Linked DNA regions of Homo sapiens. The protein of the gene in region 1 interacts with the protein of each later gene in a pairwise test. Each region holds a gene or a part of one and is shown on either strand. Other genes may lie near its edges. The genes, in order: TRPC6 and RNF24.

Region 1 (3,600 bases):
TGAAATTGTCCTGGAATTAGATATTAGTGGTGGCTGTACAACTTTATGGATATATTAAAAATAGTGCATTGTACAAGTTAAATGGGGGAATTACGTGGTATGGGAATTATGTCTTGAACTTTTAAAAAGAAAAACATATACATAATTGTAAATGCTCTTAACTTGCACAGCACACAGATGAATGAAACCAGTTCTAACTATTCTCCTTTATCTTTGAGAAAAGTTAGATGCTCCCTTTACTGCGGCTCACCTCTTACTTCGAAAGGGCACCGCAGCAGGGCTTGAGGCTGGGCAGCCCTGACACAGCACCCATCTATCAGGAGGGTCTGCCAGGCGCCTATGGGGTGGAATCCTCCCTCCAACTAAAGCTGTTTATAGAGCTGAGAACCTCGGGAAACCGCTTGCGGGTGGATGTGACAAGTCAGGAAACTTGACTACCCAATCACCCAAAGGGGCAATGGGACAGAAATGCTATCTGCCCGCTGCACATGTGGTCACAGCGGTGTCGGGGAAGCGGAGTCTTTTCTTCTGGAGTCCACTCTGCTTACTCCCTACCTCCCCTCCCGCCACCCACCCAGCTAAAAAAAAAAATACCCTAGATTCATAAACAAAAGCTTGCAGTTACCCACAGCCCAATACAAACGACCCGACGCCCTCACTTCTATAGCCCGTGAGTCTCCCAGCCCCTAACAGGCTCGTCTCCCCAGACGCCCCGGGTGAAAAGGTTCGCGCCGCCGGTGGAGAGTCCTATTGGTTCTATTTCTGTCTTCACTCCAAGGCCCCAGGACCGGGGAGAGGTCCTGGTCTAACTTTGGCTGTCCCACGGTCCAAGGACCTCAGCGCTCAGCCCGAAACGCTAAGCCAAGCGTGGAGACCGCCGGGCGCACCCAGCACCCAGGCAGCTCCAACCCTTGGAGTTCTAGTCATCTCTCCCCCACATAGGCTAAGAGTCACCCGGGCGCACATCTGAATCAGCCCCCTGTTCAGATCCCGCCTGTTACGTAGCGATCCTGTCTCTTGTAGAGCGCAGGATGAAGGGGTCTGGAGAAATCGACCACCCATCTAATCACCTGCAATGGTGGTGTTACTATGCGGTCTCACTCTCGTGGGCAAACATATCCATGCGTACCTACGAGGAGCAAACCTAGACAACCCCGCCTCCCCCACTCCCCGCGCGCCCCTCCACTCACTCAGGTCCCAGCCCTGGCTCTCGCGGACCTCCCAGCACCGTCCTAGGAGGTACACACGCGGGTTCAGGACGCGCGCGGACGGACTCGGCCACTCCTGCGAGCGCACAACCTCCCTCCGCGCAGCCCGCGCCCGATCCGCCCCGCGTCGCCGGCACTCACAAGCAGGGGTAGTAGCCGTAGCAAGGCAGCGGGGCTTGCGGGCAGCCGTCTTCTCCCAGCTCCGAGTCCATGAGCAGATAGTCCTGGCTCTCGTTGCGCCGCGCAGCGGCTCCGGCAGCGCCCCGGGGAGAACTGCCCCTCCGGGGCCCGAACGCCGGGCTCTGGCTCATGGCGGGAACGCCCGACTGGCCTGGGCCCCGCTCCCGGGGGAGCCGAGTGGGCAGTTCCAGCGGGGACCCGGTGCGGAGGGTTCGCGTCAGCGGCCGAACTGGACCTGGGCAGACCGGTGCCCAGGGGACGACGGTGAAGCAGGGGGTGCAGACGCCCGCCGCAAGTGGCTCGCCCACTGGCCCGGGGAAAAGTCACCACTTAAGGGGGTGCAAAGAGGATCTTGACCTGAGCAGGTCAGGCCGAGGAGACCCCGCGAGGATGCGTCTGGGGCGCCCGGGCAGAGAGGGCACAGGCGGGGCCGCTGGTGGTAGCGAAGCGTAAGAGCGGAGAGCAAGGGAGACGGAGCTGAAGAGTTACTATGTCAACAGAGACTCTCCAGCCCTCAGCTCCCGCCTTCATCCCCCGCACTCTCCGTCAAGATCCCCACCTTTAAAGGGATCCGAGCGACGTTCTAGAAAGCAGCCAAAGCCTGTCCTGTAGCCACAACTTTCAGGAGGCGGTATGAGCCTGAACTAGGAGGAGCCAGGCACGCACTCTTTTTTTCCCCTCCACTATTTAGTTGGCTCATTTAGTAAGGATACCAACTGCGGACTTCGTAGGAAGCTTCCTTTAAGAACCACTCTCAAAGAGCCAAGGAAACCTGTTCCTTAAAAGGGACACGAGCCTCTTCTTTCTCCAGACTGCCTTCATTTTCTTTGGTCATTTTCTCTCTTACCCTCAACTCATAAAGTTATTATGACTCTGCTTTAAAAATGAACAACGTTCTATGTTCCAAACGCCAGATGTTCCCAGTTCCTGAGAAAACCAACAAAAATAGGCAAGCATTTTCCAATGATACCGATAAAGAGGCCAACAACCTGCTTACTTCAGAGAAAAAATTTTCCTTCCGTCACTGCGAATGCAAGAATGATTTCTCTGCCAGATGTTTCCCACGTTTCCAAGCTGTTTTATTTTTAAGACTTAGTTTTAAATTCTGATTAATATGCATACGTGTGAGAAGTAAAAACTTGTCAACAAGGATGAATCAGTATTTGTAGACCTTTAAGCAGTAGTAGCCAATTAAGAATCCATTCATTAAGTCAACAAATATTTAATGAATGCCAACTGCGTTTCAAATCATTTCAGAATTCGGAGGCAAAGAAGCAGATGAGGCACCTGTCTGCCCTCATAGAGCTTTCGTGGCAGAAAGGGGGACCAATTAAATAAGCAAATGAAAAAATATCAAGGACAAATGCTACAATGAAAATAAAACAGGTTGATGTGATGGCAGCTGGTGAATGACTACTTCAGATGAGATGGTTAAAAGAGGCCCCTCCAAGGAGGTGCTCGTTAAGTTGAGACATGCATGGCAAGCAGCCAGCCATGAAAAGATCAGAGGCCCATTGCAATTGGATGAAAGAAAGCCAGACTGAAATCTGTCTGCAAAGGTGCCTTTGCTTCCCATGAACAGGTGGACAACAAAATGAATGTTGGAAGTGTGGGAAAATGCAATTGATTTGATAGAAGGGAAAAGAGCTCACACATTTAGAAACTTCTGAGTTTGCCTTTAAATTTAGAACTGAAACTCAGAGAGAGCAGAAACCACTGTGTCCTGAGGATCCAGCTTCGTATTTGACACAGGTGTGTAGGGTGCATGCATGCATGCTTGGGTGGGTGAGTGGGTGGGTGGGTGGATGGATGGATGGATGGACGGATGGATGGATGGATGGATGGAAGGAATATAGAAAAAATAAGAAAATGCTCTTGGCCCTGGAAAGAACATTTTCCCTGGGGAAACAAACAACCTGCATCATTCTGAAGTCTGTTCTTTCTGATTTAACAGCCTTCCTTTTTGATCTTTCAACATGTGGAGCCATGATTTAAAATTCTTATAATTTTCTAGTTACTATACCTAGCAATAAGATATTCTTCCTAAAATTTGTTTGTGGCAACTGCTATCTGTAAGTATTCATTAGCTTTGATGCTTGAATGAATTAATCAATAAACGTTTAGTTAAACAGTGCCAAGGTAATCTCTTTGGCAACACCAAGTATGGGGAAAACATTCATGGGAAAAGTAATATTCAAAGGTTTTCTACCCA
Region 2 (4,119 bases), on another chromosome or scaffold:
TTAGTGGTCCCTCATCTGGGCAAAGCAGACCCAAGGTGGTGCTGAGTGCAGAGTGCAGAGCATTCTTGTGCTCTCCTCTCATGGCTGGAACTATCTGGGCTTTGCGCCCTGGTCCAGTGCTACGTATCAACCCCCTCAACATGCCTGTGGCTCTGACACGGGGGGATGAATTAACTTGCCTCTGTTCAAATATACAGACTTGGTGAGGCTGTCTTTTGTTAGTACTGATGCACAGGGACAGAAAAAGCCTGCAACTTTCAGTTGGGAGAATCCTATAAAAGCTGTGAGCAGCAATAATTTGCAGTATTGATCATAGGAAGGGAAAAAACATTCTCTTTCCTATTAGAGCCCCATAACAGAGGTGACATCTGTCCCAAGGCCATTCCATGGAAAATGGTGGCTGCTGGCAATTAGTGAGGCTAGTCCAGAAGCAAGCCTCCTTCTGATATTGGTCACTGAAAACAGCTCACTATAAACGGGGTGTTTTGTGGCATTCAACTCTGTTGTGCTACAAATAGAGAATGCAAAAAGACGGTGAAAGTAGGAGTGCATAAATAGTTTTTTTCATGGGTGCCAGACAGGCTAAGGCTTTCATATAAAAATATTCCTCACTTTCCTCGTCCTGTTTAGGAAGCAGTCCAGTTGGCATACCACGAATAGGTCACACATAGGAAATGGCCTATTTTGACCAACTGGATTTGTAATTTTCCAAACCGGATTCTGTCCAGCACTGTTCTACACTAATGGAAATTTTCCTCCTCATGCCCAGCCATCTGAACCAAGGACAGGTTCCTTCTCCTAAGAGGACAGAGGTTGGATTCCAGAAAAAAATCCTGGAGTCATGCCAAGAGCAGAGTAGCAAAGCTCCCTCCATCCATTCTCCATGTCACGCAGACTGTATTCCTAATGAAAAACTTCCCCCACTCACACCTGTGGGATGGAGTGGAGCAAAGCAGTTGACGAGGAATTGAGGCAGGCGCTCCTAAGATGGAGGGAGGCGGAGAGCAGGGCTGTGGAAAAGAATTTTCCATCTGACCTGCTACTTTCCATAGCTAATTTATACAATATTCACAAATCTTAATGGACTTTGAGTCATTTCTAGAAAAGTTGGACAGAAAGAGCCAAAGAGCAGCATGCGTTTCTCTCCTATAAAGACACTTTCACTTTCAGTTTCGGAAGTCCAAATACTGAGGCACACACCAACGGTGGACAGCCCTGCAGGAGCTTCCTGAAACTATCTACAATTCCAAGTGGATCACCAGCTTCAGAATTACACAGGGATCTTATTTGGGATAAAGTGTTAAAAAGTGAATGACAGGCTTTTTTTTTTTTTTTTTTTTTTTTCTGAAGTAGAAAGAGAGATAGGGCAAGAGAGAGAAGAGATGGAAGGAGGGGGAGAGGCCAAAGGGTCGGCATTCCCTTCATCCAGCCGGGCCAGAAGTATGGGCCATTCTCAAAAAGCCACTGCTCTTTGGAGCCACTCGAGAGGTTCACAGTGGCTCCCTTCTGAGGCAGTGGCAGTGGGCTCACAGCAGCTACACTGGAACCACAGTGCACATGTGGGGATGTGGGCAGCCTCCTGGATCACTCAGGGACAGTGTGGACTCAGGGCCCACTCCCTGCTGGGGCTCTGGACGGGCCTTACTGGTGCATAGGAGAGGGAAATGATAAGAGGAAATGGCTTCTGACTAGGCCTTTCCAAGCGCATCTCATGTTTTCAGCTTAGATGATTTGATAGCAGGTGTTGTAATCCTGAGGGGGAAATGGGTGACGAGGAACACTGCTACTCAAAGCCAAGATGGCCTTATCAAAGGCATACAACATGAGCCTTGTGGGCACTGCCTCACCAACCACTGGTGGCTGGTTGTGCTGGTTTTACTTGGCTCAAGGGCTGCTGGGAAGGTTTGCTGCGACAAAGGCCTGCATGGCCTACAGAGAAACCCATCCATCCGCAGGTGGGGGTGTGGCTTGAAAGACCTGCTCTTAGTTCCCTTCTTTACCCTCCTGCTTGACATGGAGATGAGGCTCCAGGAGAGAGAGTGTAATGGAGTTAGTAAGAGACCCTCATGAAGTTTCTTGAGGCAAACCCGCAGGCTCATCCACTCCTCTTCTCTCGGCAGGGGGTAGTGTCAAAGTGCTTTGGTTGTCACAAGACCCAGACACCTAGGTTCCCAGTTTGGCTGGCCCAAGAGTTCTTCATGAGGCAAAAGAAGTGGCAGCTGGTGTCCTAGGTAGAGAGCAGCCATACAGACACCACATGTGTTCCTCCTGGCTCCACACAGACGTCGTGTCCAGCAACAGTCTGATCCTTGCGGTAAGCTATACAATGTTCTCTGCCCCAGGAAGGGGCCCCTGAGGGGGTCCACGGTCCTGCTTACTGTGCAACTGGGCCAGCTGTAGAACTGGCATGTTGCACAGGGGACACACTTTACGAACCTCCAGCCACTTAATAAGGCACCTGCAGAAGGAGACACCACAGGGGGAAGATGTCAGTCCTATGCTCATGGCACGGCTGTTCTGCTGAACATCTCCATATCTGTCACCCAGACAACGTCTGCTGTATGGTCCAAGGAGCTCCCCTCCTAGGTGGTGAACGGATGTCACCCCCTGGAGAGAGGGAAGAGACAGAGAGAAGGAGTGGGGAGAGGCCAAGGGGTCAGCAATCCCCTCTTCCTTCCAGAGCCTCCCATCTTCCACGTGTGAAGCCACAGATAGTATGTGATACTCTCAGTTACCCATGACTTCTTACAAGAACAAAATACACTGAGCAGGGATGTGAGAAGTAGGAAAATAAATTTTTCTAACAGAAATACAAAACAAAAAATTATAAGAGGAAGAATATTAATATGTCTGCAGGAAGTGGGAGGAGAGTGCCCCACACTACCATTTATATCCAGACTTTATTTTGATTTTAAATAACTATGGTTTTGATTTAAATAAGTTTTTAGGAGATGAGGCTCTCAGTGGAAAGTTCCAGCTAAATAGCTGTTTATTGCTTGGGCTCCAAGTGTAGGCTCATTTTGGCTCTCTGCCCATAGTCCTGACGTGGTGGTCACGTTCCACCACTCTGCTGTCTCCTAATGTCACGCACACACACACACATCCCACCTGTAGGGTGCTGTCAGCTTTCTGCATTACAGACCAATCATGAAGCCATCAAGCTTGTCTGGCACTGCCCTAAAACCCAAAAGAAGTTGGTTGATGTGCCTCAAACTCGGGTCCCATTAAGTAATTCCATACCAATACTTACTTTCTGTGGAAGGCGTGCTTACATGGGCAAATCCCCAACTCATCTCGAGGCTTGAAGTCTTCTAGGCACACTGCACAGAGCTGAAAGACAAATGCACAAATGAAGCCAAGTGTCTGTTAAGTACCCTCCCAGGTACAAAGTAGAGTGCAGGCTCCTAAAGGCTCAACCGTTTGAAGGGACTCATGAGACTCTTATCTTAAAAAAAAAAGAAATGAATGAATAAATGACTGAAAAGAAACAGGCCAAAATAGATGAATGTCTCCTGCTCTTCCTGTCCCATATCTTCAAGGAGGTGGGCAGATGGGAGAAGACAGAAAGCAAGAGGCAGCTGCCTTTACTTCAGTGCATCAGAAGTGTGGGACCGAGGGAGGGTTACTCTCACATCTGCCAGCTTAGCCTGCTGTCCCTTTCCTGGTGTGCCGAAAGAGCTGAGGCTCTCTGGGTTCTCCACCTTGTCAGCAGCACAGCCTGGCTCCCAAGCACTCACTGAAAGGGACCGCTCAAGCCCTGGCAATCTTTTCTCCTGTTTTTATGCACAGCTTGCAGTAACATGCTATTTATAGTTCCTGGGGCCTCCCACTTTGGCACTGTCCTTCTGTCAGTGTCTCTGTCATATAAAAAGTTACTGAAGACTCAGTTAACTCATGAACATGTGCAGATGGGACCAGGACTGCTCTCAGCCAATGACTAGTCTCCATGGCTTGGAGAGAGGCCTTTGCCATCGTACCCAGGGGCTGGGTTCCAACACTTTCCTGGGCATTCACCAGGGCCCGTGGATACCATGTGTCACCACACTGACCCATTTTACCGATGAGGAAACAGAAGCTCAGGAAAATAATGTTGCTTGAGGCCATTTAATTGGAGAGTGG

The links.
Region 2: the proteins of TRPC6 (region 1) and RNF24 interact in a two-hybrid assay, tested with the Homo sapiens proteins (one study listed by BioGRID).

The regions. Positions count from the first base shown.
Region 1 is NC_000011.10:101,581,985-101,585,584, forward strand, and holds the start of TRPC6 (short transient receptor potential channel 6), read right to left. Parts: upstream 2,024-3,600; 5' UTR 1,520-2,023; coding exon 1,350-1,519; intron 1,284-1,349; exon of another isoform or gene 1,191-1,283; intron 1-1,190. UniProt on the Homo sapiens protein: Forms a receptor-activated non-selective calcium permeant cation channel. Probably is operated by a phosphatidylinositol second messenger system activated by receptor tyrosine kinases or G-protein coupled receptors.
Region 2 is NC_000020.11:3,931,744-3,935,862, forward strand, and holds part of RNF24 (RING finger protein 24), read right to left. Parts: intron 3,331-4,119; coding exon 3,251-3,330; intron 2,459-3,250; coding exon 2,320-2,458; 3' UTR 1-2,319. UniProt on the Homo sapiens protein: May play a role in TRPCs intracellular trafficking.